4 linked regions of the Homo sapiens genome follow. The protein of the gene in region 1 purifies or fractionates together with the protein of each later gene. This does not show direct contact. Each region holds a gene or a part of one and is shown on either strand. Other genes may lie near its edges.

The links. The genes of interacting proteins can lie anywhere in the genome.
Region 2: the proteins of ACBD7 (region 1) and HPCAL1 purify together in Homo sapiens (affinity purification with mass spectrometry; 2 studies listed by BioGRID and IntAct, with this or other methods). This does not show direct contact.
Region 3: the proteins of ACBD7 (region 1) and YES1 purify together in Homo sapiens (affinity purification with mass spectrometry; one large-scale study listed by BioGRID and IntAct). This does not show direct contact.
Region 4: the proteins of ACBD7 (region 1) and GNAZ purify together in Homo sapiens (affinity purification with mass spectrometry; 2 studies listed by BioGRID and IntAct, with this or other methods). This does not show direct contact.

The regions. Positions count from the first base shown.
Region 1 is NC_000010.11:15,082,277-15,085,776, reverse strand, and holds part of ACBD7 (acyl-CoA-binding domain-containing protein 7), read left to right. Parts: intron 1-3,500. UniProt on the Homo sapiens protein: Binds medium- and long-chain acyl-CoA esters.
Region 2 is NC_000002.12:10,305,904-10,309,403, forward strand, and holds part of HPCAL1 (hippocalcin-like protein 1), read left to right. Parts: intron 1-3,500. UniProt on the Homo sapiens protein: May be involved in the calcium-dependent regulation of rhodopsin phosphorylation.
Region 3 is NC_000018.10:721,088-725,242, reverse strand, and holds the end of YES1 (tyrosine-protein kinase Yes), read left to right. Parts: intron 1-610; coding exon 611-819; 3' UTR 820-3,655; downstream 3,656-4,155. UniProt on the Homo sapiens protein: Non-receptor protein tyrosine kinase that is involved in the regulation of cell growth and survival, apoptosis, cell-cell adhesion, cytoskeleton remodeling, and differentiation.
Region 4 is NC_000022.11:23,122,519-23,125,532, forward strand, and holds the end of GNAZ (guanine nucleotide-binding protein G(z) subunit alpha), read left to right. Parts: coding exon of another isoform or gene 1-132; exon of another isoform or gene 133-184; intron 185-568; coding exon 569-913; 3' UTR 914-2,514; downstream 2,515-3,014. UniProt on the Homo sapiens protein: Guanine nucleotide-binding proteins (G proteins) are involved as modulators or transducers in various transmembrane signaling systems.

The sequences.
Region 1 (3,500 bases):
TAGCCTCCTGATTTTATCTGAAAATTACAATATGTTTCCATCCTCACCAAAGCATTTAGGAGAGCTGATGTTTATCCTAAATGGACAAATTTCTTTCCTAGATGATGAAGCTAAAAAACAGACTTCTTCCTCTAGAATATGTATCTTTTCAAGTCTAGGGTACTGATGATTTTAACAACTGGCAAAAAAAGACTAACCTCTTCCCCCAGCCCACATTTGTGTGACCTAAGAACCCTGCAGTTCCTTGAGTGTGAGAATTTTTTATCTTCTTAATTGGGTTGCTCAATGGGAAAGAATTGCTCAAGAAGACCTTGCCAACCCCCTATGTGGGATGACCATGTTCATTGCAGAAAGTAAAGTCAGGTGAGGTGAGAGCCACCCTCGGAGGCTGTCTTCAGCGGGGCTGAAATGTGAAAGGTAATTTACACAGCAGCCCGCCTAGTCAGCACGGAAGGATGCACCCAGGATGTACCCAGTGTGAGTGATGCTGGCGTAACTTCTACGCCAAAGGTGGGGTGAGGGAGCCTAGTGTCAAAAGTTGAACAGGAGAGAGTCCAGGGAGGGGCTGTAGTAGCCTTAAGGCAGTTTGTCTTGCAGAATCCCAAGCTCGGGTGACCGGGAGATAATGCACAAAACATTCAACCAGGATGCCGAGGACCCCTCGCTCAGGAGAAATCAGCTCAGCATTGGCTGCAGTTCCTGCCAAAGGCAGCAAGCCCAGCTCTGCAACAGGATACTGCAAAACTGTGATGCCTTTCTCTCAGGATGAGGCAGGAGAATAGGGTCTGGAGGCAGGGAACCTAAGGCCGATTCACACTGACTTTGTAGAACTAAATCAAAACCCCAACTTTCCACACCTATGTAATAAAAGGACCGGAGGCTACTCCCTTTGCAACCTCCTCCCCACTTTCTGTGTGGCAGATGGAAAATTGAAAGTATCTCTGACTGGTTGCTTTCTGCAACCAATCAGACATTTGCACAGGAATGTACCTTTGTAACTTCATTTCAGCCTCTGATTGGTTGCTTTCCCCAACCAGTCAGACTGATCGTGAGCCAAGTCTTTATTTGCATAGAAGTGTAACTTTGTAACTTCAGCCTCTGATTGCAGGCCGCTACTTCATTTACATAGGATGCACACCAAGTAACCAATGGGAAGCCTCTGGAGGGCGTTTAAGCACAGAAAATTCTGTAACAGGGATCTTGAGTCCCTGTGCTCGGCCTGCTCCCACCCTGTGGAATGTACTTTCGCTTTCAGTAAATCTCGGCTTTTGTTGCTTCATTGTTTCCTTGCTTTGTTTGTGCATTTTGTCCAATTTTTTGTTCAAAATGCCAAGAACTTGGGCACCCTCCACTGGTAACAAGAATGCTTTGGAATTCAATGTCCATGGCTCTATATTTAAAGCTGCATCTCACCTATGATAACTTTCTGATCCCCCTAAAGTCTGCTCGCTCGTTAACCATCCAACAAGGATGTACTTAATAGACTCAGACCAGGCTCACGCCACCCACCAGCAGTCCGTGAGGCCCCGTGGGTGCTGCCAAGGTGATTATTGATTGATTGTTTATTTATTGATTTGTGAGTATTTATGCAACCCCACATAGCCTTTATGTTGAGCTCTAGTAAGTTCTGTCCACACCGCTGGGAGCAGCTTTCCCTGCCCCTCTGCAGCCAACAATCGCAGACCCGATCCCATCTCATCTCAGGGATGGCTTTTTCCGTTCCGTACCTTCCCGTCTGTGCTACCTCCTGTGTTCCCAGAGCAACTGCTGCACCTTATTTGCAGCAAGTCCCCTGTGGTCACCGTTGCCCTGTTCATCTCCCACCAGGCTATGAGCGCCTTCAAGCACGCTGCCTTGTGCATGCCCATCTGCCTGGCAAAGGCCTGGCCTGTCGGAGGTGTTCAGTAAGTAGGTTTGTTAATTAGTATGAGCTGTGAGATGAACTCTGGGAGGGCAGACTCCATAGGATCAAATCAAGAATATTTTACATTCTTGGCCGGGCATCGTGGCTCACGCCTGTAATCCCAGCACTTTGGGAAGCAGAGGTAGGCAGGTCACTTGAGTTCAGGAGTTCAAGACCAGCTTGGCCAACATGGCAAAACCCTATCTTTATTAAAAATACAAAAAAATTAGCCAGGCGTGGTGGTGCATGCCTGTAATCCTAGCTACTTGGGAGGCTGAGGTGGGAGGATCGCTTGAACCAGGAGGTGGAGGTTGCAGTGAGCCGTGATTGTGCCGCTGTACTCTAGCTTGGACAACAGAGCGAGACTGTCTCAAAAAGAAAATTATATTCTTAATCATCCTTAACCCTAGCACAAAAAGAGGCTGATATTCTCTTTTTGTGGCCGAAGCTGCATCTTAGAGGAGCTTTGTTTGTTGCATCGAGTCCCAGGGCAGTGTGTCTCAAAGCTGGAAGTCAAACCTGAGTATCCTGGCCAAGGCCAATGTTGTTTGTACTCCAGCTCATCATGGCTGGGATGGGAAAGGCCTCCTGCAGGAAGGTGCATCAGAACAGCCCCTTAAGGCAGGAATGTATTGCACTGAGGTGCCAGAACCAGACAGGCTAGACAGAGAGAATGATGCTGGCCCCTGCTCTAGAACTGAGTTCCCTACCTAGGGAGGGAGAAAGAGCGGGGACCCCTGAAATGGCATGGGAAACTGTGTGAGGGCATAGCTCTTCTGTGCAGAGGGGTCCAGGACTTTCATTAGATCTTTTTTTCTTTTCTTTTTTCTTTTTTTTGAGACGGAGTCTTGCTCTGTCACCCAGGCTGGAGTGCAGTGGCAGGATCTTGGCTCACTGCAACCTCTGCTCCTGGGTTCAAACTATTTTCCTGCCTCAGTCTCCTGAGTAGCTGGGATCACAGGTGTGAGGCACCGTGCCCAGCTAATTTTTTGTATTTTTAGTAGAGACGGTGTTTCACCATTTTGGCCAGGCTGGTCTCGAACTCTTGACCTTAAGTGAGCCACCTCCCTCAGCCTCCCAAAATGCTGGGATTACAGACGTGAGCCACTGCACCCAGCCCTCATATGGGTTTTCAAGAAGGCTTAGAATTCTAATTAAGGCTTGGCACCTCAAAAGGAGTCGAGTTGCTGTCACTGGAAAATAATATGAGACTTTACAGCAAGCAGAACACCTGAGATGGCCTATAAACCTACAGAGGAAGGTCCTACACCCCTTCTGCATAGCCTTGCCCTCAAGCAGCTCAGCCACTCATGTAGCATTTCAATTTTGTTCTTATTATAAACACAATCCATGCACATTATAGAAGATTTGGAGAGTACAAAAATATTTTAAAACTACATAACTTGCCAGTAATCAGAGGCAATTACTGTTTACATATCTTTAGTATACATCTTTCTAGTTTTTATTTTTTCTATACTACTTACAAAGCTGAGTGTATAAAAAGAATTTGTGTTCTTTGCTAAACCATAAACTAAAAGTATTTCTTATGTCTTGCTTTATTGCAAGTACCTTTTTTTTTTTTTTTTTTTTGAGATAG
Region 2 (3,500 bases), on another chromosome or scaffold:
TGTTGAAGCGCTGGTGCTCACACCCCCTACCTTCAGGGCTCTGCAAGCACAGTTCCAAGGTCTGCAGCGCGGGTACAGTGCATGCCCTGCTGAGTGTGCGTCAGAGCAGTTGTCTCCCTGTGACACTTATTCTAAGACCCTTTTTGCTACTCATAAGTGGTAGAGTACCACACTCACTCATGAACCAGTGATAATCCAGGGTACTAACGGGGGCCCCGGAGTTTATTTGGCACCGAAGATTAAGCTACTTGGCAGCTGAATTTTTATCTAGATTGGGGTTAGGTTTGTATTAAAATTTTGCATTCCAGCAAGCCCTAAACCGTGCTTGTTCATTGTGGGATAATGCGTTCAACTGATGAGTTGCCAGGCCAGGATTGATGGGGGATTATGTGTATTCTGCTAGTTTGTCAGCACCTGATGTCACTGTGCTGGGGGGTGGGGGAGGCATGTTTGGAGTTAGGATGAGCAGACACTTGTAGATTTTAATCACACTCTACTTTGGGGCTCCCTGCTCTCCTATGGTAGCAGGGGGTTTCTGTGTCGTTCTTATGTCCTCATGTAAAGCTGCACATCTGTGAATGTCAGGTAGCTCTTGTGCTTTTCCCCTTAGATTGAGTTTCTAATCTGGGAATGACAGAGGGTGGCTGTATATGGAGACAGCAGCATGGGCTTAGGGGCTCTTTTGGTGCCAGTTACCCTACGGAAAAAAGGTTTCTTCAAATCACTTTCTACAAAGACTAAAAAATGGTTGGAATCTAGTGGTGCAGATTGTAATATGACTTCAGGTAATCAATACGGTTTGACAGGTGGAACATTTCTTAGATGCTGATGAGCAGGGCGCAAGTCTCAAGATTTTTAAATCATCTGAAAAGCACAGTAAATCCTTTAAAGAGCCCTACCTTGGCCATGTTGTTTCAAGTAAAATTGAATTTCAGAGGCAAAGCTTCACATCGGAGGCATGACGAACTAAAGAAATCCTTCCCAGAGACCTCCACTCTCTTCCTGTTGCCACCCTCCTCTGCCAGCAGCAGGGCAGGAAAGATGACTTCTTGGGGCTGTGTGCCTTTACCTTAAGAAGCAAGTGCACCCTGAATGCTTCTAATCCCGCAGCTGGGTTGTCTGGGTATTTGGATCTTTTTGGTGCTTGAGGTACTACCCAAGTTGGCAGGAAGCCAGGAGCCTGGGGGTGGAGGTGTCTTAGCCCCACCTGTGGCATGAGACAAGAGGTCTTCTCCAGCAAGGGATGGGTCTCTGACCCTTGGCTAAGAAAACTCAGGATTGTTAAATACGTACTGCATGGATAAGGTTGCTGTGACCCTGAAAAAAGGAAGAAGGCTTTTGGGTGGTGCGTGGTTCTCCTCTTGGAAGTCTTCCCAGATTTCGCCTCAGTACTCTCTTGCCCTAGCTTAAATCTTTCCTTGCTCTGTGTCCCCTTAGGCAAGTGAGGTCTCCTCTCAGGTAGGCATGATATTAAGTGCATGTCTAGAGGACAGTTCCTTCTACCTGCCCAGGTGCACTGGCTGAACTCACCTATGCCCACATCTGTGCATTGGCAGGTGATATAGATATACACCTGAGCTGTCCCCCTGAGCTGCAGACCTAACACTAGGTGTGGGCTCCGAGCTGTTCCACATCAAAACAGAGCCGAGGACACATCTCCCTCACTGAAGCTGTGTCTCCTACCTATTATGGTCAACACGTCTCATCTACTCATTTGTTAAAGCTAGAAATCTCTGGAGAGTTTTGGAGCTCTTTCTCTGTCTTCACTTGAAATCTCTGGAGAGTTTTGGAGCTCTTTGTCTGTCTTCACTTTGCCATCTAATTGGGTCAGCCCTCTCTGAGGGCTCACACCCACTCTTCCGGCACAGCGGAGCCTTATCTGCCCTTGGCCCAGAGAATGCTTCCAGTTCCTTCACTCCAGCCACACCGGCAGCACTTCCCAGTTTAAAACGCAGATTTCATCATCCCACTGTCTTCTGCCTCCCCAACCCCACCAAACCTTGGTTTGTTCTCTTAACGCAGTAAGTGCTTCTGATACCTACTGTGTGCCTTGGACCAAGCTGGAGTCTGAGAAGGTTGGGCCCAGGCATCCTCCCTACCTGTGCAGAGTTTAAGGTCTTGGGCTGGGGGTTGTATGTGGGGTACCTATCAAATAAGACCAGGGAGCGTGAAGTGCTATGGAGGGGAGCTCCTACCCCAGTATAGGGGGCTCCCTGGAGAAGCACCCTCTAAGCTGATACCTGGGAGAGTTGGGGGTGCAGGGGAGGGGTTGGAGTTGGGGCTGGATTGTTCGATGCCTTTCTTCTGTCTCACCCAGACTTCCTTATCTGCTAAACTCCTACTCATTTTTGTTTTAATTAATACCAAGATAGAATTTATCTCTCATAAAGCATGCCCATTCTAAGTGTACAGTTTAATGATTTTCAGTAAATTAATAGAGTTCATAGCCATTACCACAATCCAGTTTTGGAACATATCCATCACCCCAGAAAGATCCCTCTTTTGTACAAACTCCCTGTCCCCGTCCTCAAGCCGCCAGTCCCCCACAGATTTGCTTTCTGTCTCTAGATTTGCCTTTTCTTTCTATGTTTCTTAGTGTGTTTTCATAGGTTCGGCCCAAGAGCTGTTTCATTTGGGCCTTCCTAGAGTCTTCTAGTTAGAATCAATTTATCCCCCAGCACCGACGAAGTGAGCTGGGTGCTTGGCCATCCCGCTGCTAGATGGCGAGCTCTCTTACCTGCCTCTCCTGCCTGCACCTGGCTCAGCACTGGCACCTACAGAATACCCAAGGTGTGTTGGCTGGACCAGCTGAAGTTGTGTTCCTCACATTTCTTTTGTATAACTCCTGAGTATCTAGCAGAGTGTGGGGATTTAAAATACAGCGCATGTATTGATGTGTCAGGTGATGTGAGCCCTGCTACATACATACCTTAACTTGTTTCATCAAGAACTTGTGAGGCAAATGGCAAATCAAAAACAAAAACAAACAAAACAAAACAAAACAAATCTATTTTCTAAGCCAGGCACAGTGGCTCTTGTCTGTAGTTCCAGCTACTAGGGGGTGCTGAGGTGGGAGGATTGCTTGAAATCAGGGATTTGAGCCTGGGCAATATTGTGAGACCCTGCTTCTTAACAAACTTTTTTTTTTTGAGATAGGGTCTTGCTCTGTTGCCCAGGCTGGAGTGCAGTGATGTGATCCCAGCTCACTGCAGCCTTGAACTCCTGGGCCCAAGCAATCCCCCTGCCATAGTCTCCTGAGTAGCTAGGACTACAGGTACACACCACCATGCCTGCTGATTTTTAAATTTTTTGTGGAGACGAGGTCTTGCTATGTTGCCCAGACTGGTCTTGAGCTCCCGGGCTCAAATAATCCTCCAGCCTTGGCCTCTCAAAGTGCTGGAATTATAAGTGTGAACTACTGTGCCTCAGCCCAAGCCATTTTTCTAAATGAAAAAACTGAGGAGGCCCAGAGCAAATAAGTAGCCCAAGGGCATCAGCAG
Region 3 (4,155 bases), on another chromosome or scaffold:
AGGAGGCATTTTGCTGTCCTGTGATAAGATGGGGTGAACTGCTGATCAGGGGGTTGAGGAAGGGGGGATTACAAAGGAATACAAGAAAGGAACTATGTGTAATATCTTGAAGAAAGTCAAACAGGTAATATTAGATAAGGAAACTTTCACAGAAGTAATTCAATATAAAGTTATGTAGTTGGTATATTTGGCAAAACCAAGACTAGAACTTTCTTCTGAATTCCTGTTTTAAAGTTCTTTCAGACAGGATCTTGCCACCATTCCTCAGTAACCCAAGTTTGGTCATTGTTAAATGTTAATATTAGAAAGTACCAGTACCTCATAGTAGCACCCTAAATTCTTATTAATCAAATGGGGTTGGCTTTTGAAGACATTAGTATTAAAAATAAGATATAAGATGGAATGAAAAATTAGACATGTTAAAACATAGATTAGCATTTTCTAAGCTCTTCTTGATATTCTCATGTTTAAAATTTATTTTGTTGCTTTGTTAAAAGAATTGTTTCACTAAATAATATACTTTGAATGAGTTAGTGGCTAGGGGGTTTGTTATGTTTTCCTAGTGGTAGTTAGGACCATTGTTCTTTAATGTTTTAATCTTGTGTATTAGGTATGGTGAACCGTGAAGTATTAGAACAAGTGGAGCGAGGATACAGGATGCCGTGCCCTCAGGGCTGTCCAGAATCCCTCCATGAATTGATGAATCTGTGTTGGAAGAAGGACCCTGATGAAAGACCAACATTTGAATATATTCAGTCCTTCTTGGAAGACTACTTCACTGCTACAGAGCCACAGTACCAGCCAGGAGAAAATTTATAATTCAAGTAGCCTATTTTATATGCACAAATCTGCCAAAATATAAAGAACTTGTGTAGATTTTCTACAGGAATCAAAAGAAGAAAATCTTCTTTACTCTGCATGTTTTTAATGGTAAACTGGAATCCCAGATATGGTTGCACAAAACCACTTTTTTTTCCCCAAGTATTAAACTCTAATGTACCAATGATGAATTTATCAGCGTATTTCAGGGTCCAAACAAAATAGAGCTAAGATACTGATGACAGTGTGGGTGACAGCATGGTAATGAAGGACAGTGAGGCTCCTGCTTATTTATAAATCATTTCCTTTCTTTTTTTCCCCAAAGTCAGAATTGCTCAAAGAAAATTATTTATTGTTACAGATAAAACTTGAGAGATAAAAAGCTATACCATAATAAAATCTAAAATTAAGGAATATCATGGGACCAAATAATTCCATTCCAGTTTTTTAAAGTTTCTTGCATTTATTATTCTCAAAAGTTTTTTCTAAGTTAAACAGTCAGTATGCAATCTTAATATATGCTTTCTTTTGCATGGACATGGGCCAGGTTTTTCAAAAGGAATATAAACAGGATCTCAAACTTGATTAAATGTTAGACCACAGAAGTGGAATTTGAAAGTATAATGCAGTACATTAATATTCATGTTCATGGAACTGAAAGAATAAGAACTTTTTCACTTCAGTCCTTTTCTGAAGAGTTTGACTTAGAATAATGAAGGTAACTAGAAAGTGAGTTAATCTTGTATGAGGTTGCATTGATTTTTTAAGGCAATATATAATTGAAACTACTGTCCAATCAAAGGGGAAATGTTTTGATCTTTAGATAGCATGCAAAGTAAGACCCAGCATTTTAAAAGCCCTTTTTAAAAACTAGACTTCGTACTGTGAGTATTGCTTATATGTCCTTATGGGGATGGGTGCCACAAATAGAAAATATGACCAGATCAGGGACTTGAATGCACTTTTGCTCATGGTGAATATAGATGAACAGAGAGGAAAATGTATTTAAAAGAAATACGAGAAAAGAAAGTGAAAGTTTTACAAGTTAGAGGGATGGAAGGTAATGTTTAATGTTGATGTCATGGAGTGACAGAATGGCTTTGCTGGCACTCAGAGCTCCTCACTTAGCTATATTCTGAGACTTTGAAGAGTTATAAAGTATAACTATAAAACTAATTTTTCTTACACACTAAATGGGTATTTGTTCAAAATAATGAAGTTATGGCTTCACATTCATTGCAGTGGGATATGGTTTTTATGTAAAACATTTTTAGAACTCCAGTTTTCAAATCATGTTTGAATCTACATTCACTTTTTTTTGTTTTCTTTTTTGAGACGGAGTCTCGCTCTGTCGCCCAGGCTGGAGTGCAGTGGCGCGATCTCGGCTCACTGCAAGCTCTGCCTCCCAGGTTCACACCATTCTCCTGCCTCAGCCTCCCGAGTAGCTGGGACTACAGGTGCCCACCACCACGCCTGGCTAGTTTTTTGTATTTTTAGTAGAGACGCAGTTTCACCGTGTTAGCCAGGATAGTCTCGATCTCCTGACCTTGTGATCTGCCCGCCTCGGCCTCCCAAAGTGCTGGGATTACAGGCGTGAGCCACCGCGCCCAGCCTACATTCACTTCTAAAGTCTATGTAATGGTGGTCATTTTTTCCCTTTTAGAATACATTAAATGGTTGATTTGGGGAGGAAAACTTATTCTGAATATTAACGGTGGTGAAAAGGGGACAGTTTTTACCCTAAAGTGCAAAAGTGAAACATACAAAATAAGACTAATTTTTAAGAGTAACTCAGTAATTTCAAAATACAGATTTGAATAGCAGCATTAGTGGTTTGAGTGTCTAGCAAAGGAAAAATTGATGAATAAAATGAAGGTCTGGTGTATATGTTTTAAAATACTCTCATATAGTCACACTTTAAATTAAGCCTTATATTAGGCCCCTCTATTTTCAGGATATAATTCTTAACTATCATTATTTACCTGATTTTAATCATCAGATTCGAAATTCTGTGCCATGGCATATATGTTCAAATTCAAACCATTTTTAAAATGTGAAGATGGACTTCATGCAAGTTGGCAGTGGTTCTGGTACTAAAAATTGTGGTTGTTTTTTCTGTTTACGTAACCTGCTTAGTATTGACACTCTCTACCAAGAGGGTCTTCCTAAGAAGAGTGCTGTCATTATTTCCTCTTATCAACAACTTGTGACATGAGATTTTTTAAGGGCTTTATGTGAACTATGATATTGTAATTTTTCTAAGCATATTCAAAAGGGTGACAAAATTACGTTTATGTACTAAATCTAATCAGGAAAGTAAGGCAGGAAAAGTTGATGGTATTCATTAGGTTTTAACTGAATGGAGCAGTTCCTTATATAATAACAATTGTATAGTAGGGATAAAACACTAACTTAATGTGTATTCATTTTAAATTGTTCTGTATTTTTAAATTGCCAAGAAAAACAACTTTGTAAATTTGGAGATATTTTCCAACAGCTTTTCGTCTTCAGTGTCTTAATGTGGAAGTTAACCCTTACCAAAAAAGGAAGTTGGCAAAAACAGCCTTCTAGCACACTTTTTTAAATGAATAATGGTAGCCTAAACTTAATATTTTTATAAAGTATTGTAATATTGTTTTGTGGATAATTGAAATAAAAAGTTCTCATTGAATGCACCTATTAATCGTTTTAGTTGCTATTCATATTCTCATTCGTTTTTTAAAAACTGATATATTCTGAATTTATTCTTCCATTGAGAAAAAAATGTTCAGTTACTTGTAACTACTGAGCAGAATTTAATCAATCCTTTATTAAATTCAGAACATTATTGAACTCATTCTTTGTGGTCAATTTTCTTTTTTTTTTGTTTTGTTTTGTTTTTTTTTTGAGACGGAGTCTCGCTCTGTCGCCCAGGCTGGAGTGCAGTGGCGCGATCTTGGCTCACTGCAAGCTCCGCCTCCCGGGGTCACGCCATTCTCCTGCCTCGGCCACCCGAGTAGCTGGGACTACAGGCGCCTGCTACCACGCCCGGCTAATTTTTTGTATTTTTTAGTAGAGACGGGGTTTCACCATGTTAGCCAGGATGGTCTCGATCTCCTGACCTCGTGATCCGTCCGCTTCGGCCTCCCAAAGTGCTGGGATTACAGGCGTGAGCCACCGCGCCCGGCCTGTGGTCAATTTTCTATGTCAAGTGAGTGACATTATTTTTACAAGTATTTTCTTCTTCTTAAAATTATACCAGCAAATACAGTTAATGCAGAAACCTAAGTAATTTGAGTGTAGCTATTCACAATCTATGTGAAGAATATAAAATAGAATGACCAGTTTTATTATAAA
Region 4 (3,014 bases), on another chromosome or scaffold:
TTTGGTTACAGAAGTGAAGGCTGCTCCCTCACAGACTTCCTAGTGTCCGATGGTACCACATGGAAGGATCAGAGTTTTGAAGGACTGGGCCAGAACCCAGATAGGGCACAAGGCTGCCAGCGCCTGCATTGAGGGAGCTATGATGTGACGGGGGCTCCTGCAGAAGATGGCCTTCCTTGTACAGGTGTGGGGCAGCCTGTGGATGGGCAGTGGGAAGATGGGGGGTCCTCGGAGCTGGAGGTGCCCAGCGGTTTAGGAGGCTGTGCTTGGCACATCTGTAGCCCCAAAGCTATATGTTGAGATCACTGGCACCCAGAGGAGAGACCCAAAAGGGGCAAGAGAACATCTTCCAAGCACTTGCCACTGGCAAGGAGGGTGCTGCCGGCTATTTCCGTGGGAGGTGGGTGAAGACATTTAACCTGGGCTTCCCCAGCAGAAGGAGGTGCCATTGCAGGGACCAGTCTTGGGCTGAGACCCTAGCAAAGGCTTCCTCTGGCAGGGCTGCAGGTCTAGGGTCTGTCTCTGCCTGCTGCGGGCCTGATTAACGCCAGTACTTTCCTTTCCCCAGAGTCGGATGGCAGAGAGCTTGCGCCTCTTTGACTCCATCTGCAACAACAACTGGTTCATCAACACCTCACTCATCCTCTTCCTGAACAAGAAGGACCTGCTGGCAGAGAAGATCCGCCGCATCCCGCTCACCATCTGCTTTCCCGAGTACAAGGGCCAGAACACGTACGAGGAGGCCGCTGTCTACATCCAGCGGCAGTTTGAAGACCTGAACCGCAACAAGGAGACCAAGGAGATCTACTCCCACTTCACCTGCGCCACCGACACCAGTAACATCCAGTTTGTCTTCGACGCGGTGACAGACGTCATCATACAGAACAATCTCAAGTACATTGGCCTTTGCTGAGGAGCTGGGCCCGGGGCCCGCCTGCCTATGGTGAAACCCACGGGGTGTCATGCCCCAACGCGTGCTAGAGAGGCCCAATCCAGGGGCAGAAAACAGGGGGCCTAAAGAATGTCCCCCACCCCTTGGCCTCTGCCTCCTTGGCCCCACATTTCTGCAAACATAAATATTTACGGATAGATTGCTAGGTAGATAGACACACACACATGCACACACACACATCTGGAGATGGCAAAATCCTCTAAAATGTCGAGGTCTCTTGAAGACTTGAGAAGCTGTCACAAGGTCACTACAAGCCCAACCTGCCCCTTCACTTTGCCTTCCTGAGTTGGCCCCACTCCACTTGGGGGTCTGCATTGGATTGTTAGGGATAGGCAGCAGGGCTGAGGCAAGGTAGGCCAACTGCACCCCTGTCGCCTGGAGGAGGGCCAGCTCGCTGCCCGAGCTCTGGCCTAGGGACCTTGCCGCTGACCAAGAGGGAGGACCAGTGCAGGGTCTGTGCACCTTCCCTGCTGGCCTGCACACAGCTGCTCAGCACCACTTTCATTCTGGACCTGGGACCTTAGGAGCCGGGTGACAGCACTAACCAGACCTCCAGCCACTCACAGCTCTTTTTAAAAAACAGCTTCAAAATATGCAGCAAAAACCAATACAACAAAACGAGTGGCACGATTTATTTCAAACTAGGCCAGCTGGGATTCCAGCTTTTCTTCTACTAGTCTGATGTTTTATAAATCAAAACCTGGTTTTCCTTCTCTGACATTTTTTTTTTGTTTTGTTTTTTGGTTTTTTTTTTTTTTTGGCCAAATCTCGTGGTGTTTCGCAGAAAAAAATCCAGAAAATTTCAAATGCAGTTGAGTATTCTTTTTTAAATGCAGATTTTCAAAACATATTTTTTTTCAGGTGGTCTTTTTTGTGTCTGGCTTGCTGAGTGTAAAAGTTGTTATCTGGACGATCTGTCTCTCTGCTCCAAAGAAATTTTGGAGTGAGTGGCAGTCCTGCGCCAGCCTCGCGGGACACGTGTTGTACATAAGCCTCTGCAGTGTCCTCTTGTTAATGGTGGGGTTTTCTGCTTTGTTTTTATTTAAGAAAATAAACACGACATATTTAAAGAAGGTTCTTTCACCTGGGAGCAAATGAACAATAGCTAAGTGTCTTGGTATTTAAAGAGTAAATTATTTGTGGCTTTGCTGAGTGAAGGAAGGGGAGCAAGGGGTGGTGCCCCTGGTCCCAGCATGCCCCGCGCCTGAGACTGGCTGGAAATGCTCTGACTCCTGTGAAGGCACAGCCAGCGTTGTGGCCTGAGGGAGGCCCTGCTGGGACCCTGATCTGGGCCTTCCTGTCCCAGGGCCTATGGGCAACTGCGTTGAAAGGACGTTCGCCAAGGGCCGTGTGTAAATACGAACTGCGCCATGGAGAGGAGAGGCACTGCCGGAGCCCTTGCCAGATCTCCCTCCCTCTCTCCGTGCAGTAGCTGTGTGTCCGAGGTCAGTGTGCGGAATCACAGCCAAGGACGTGAAGAGATGTACGGGGGAAAGAGAAGCTGGGGATTGGATGAAAGTCAAAGGTTGTCTACTTTAAGAAAATAAAATACCCTGAATGGAGCCCAGCATTGTCCCAGTGTGCTATGTGTGTAGCTGACCTGTGGCTGGACTTGGTGCCATCTGGAAGGGCAGCCGGGGACACCTCCATTCTGAGGTCCCATATTCCAAACCCCACCCCTATACCTCCACACATTTAGGTAGAGTCATTTTGCAATGAACATCACAAATAAACATCACGAGAGGAAAGAAACTGCAAAGAGGGGAAACCTGCCAGGTCCATGCAGTCCTGGTGTGGAGGTCTGGGGGTGATGATGACTCCTGCCCCTCCCGCTGCCCCCAAGACCCCACCCAACACTGACCCAGGCTGTGCCATACCCTGGACCCCTCCCACCATGTGGACACCTCAGCCAATGTCAGAGTCATCCTGCAGAGTGGAAGAGGTGCCCTGAGGGCCTGGAGGGTTCCTGTGCCCCCAGTAGTGTAGGGCAAACCTTGTAGGGTTTTGGAGAGGAGGGGTCCCTGAGCATGCAGTGCTCGCTGACTGGCTTGTGTGGTTAGAG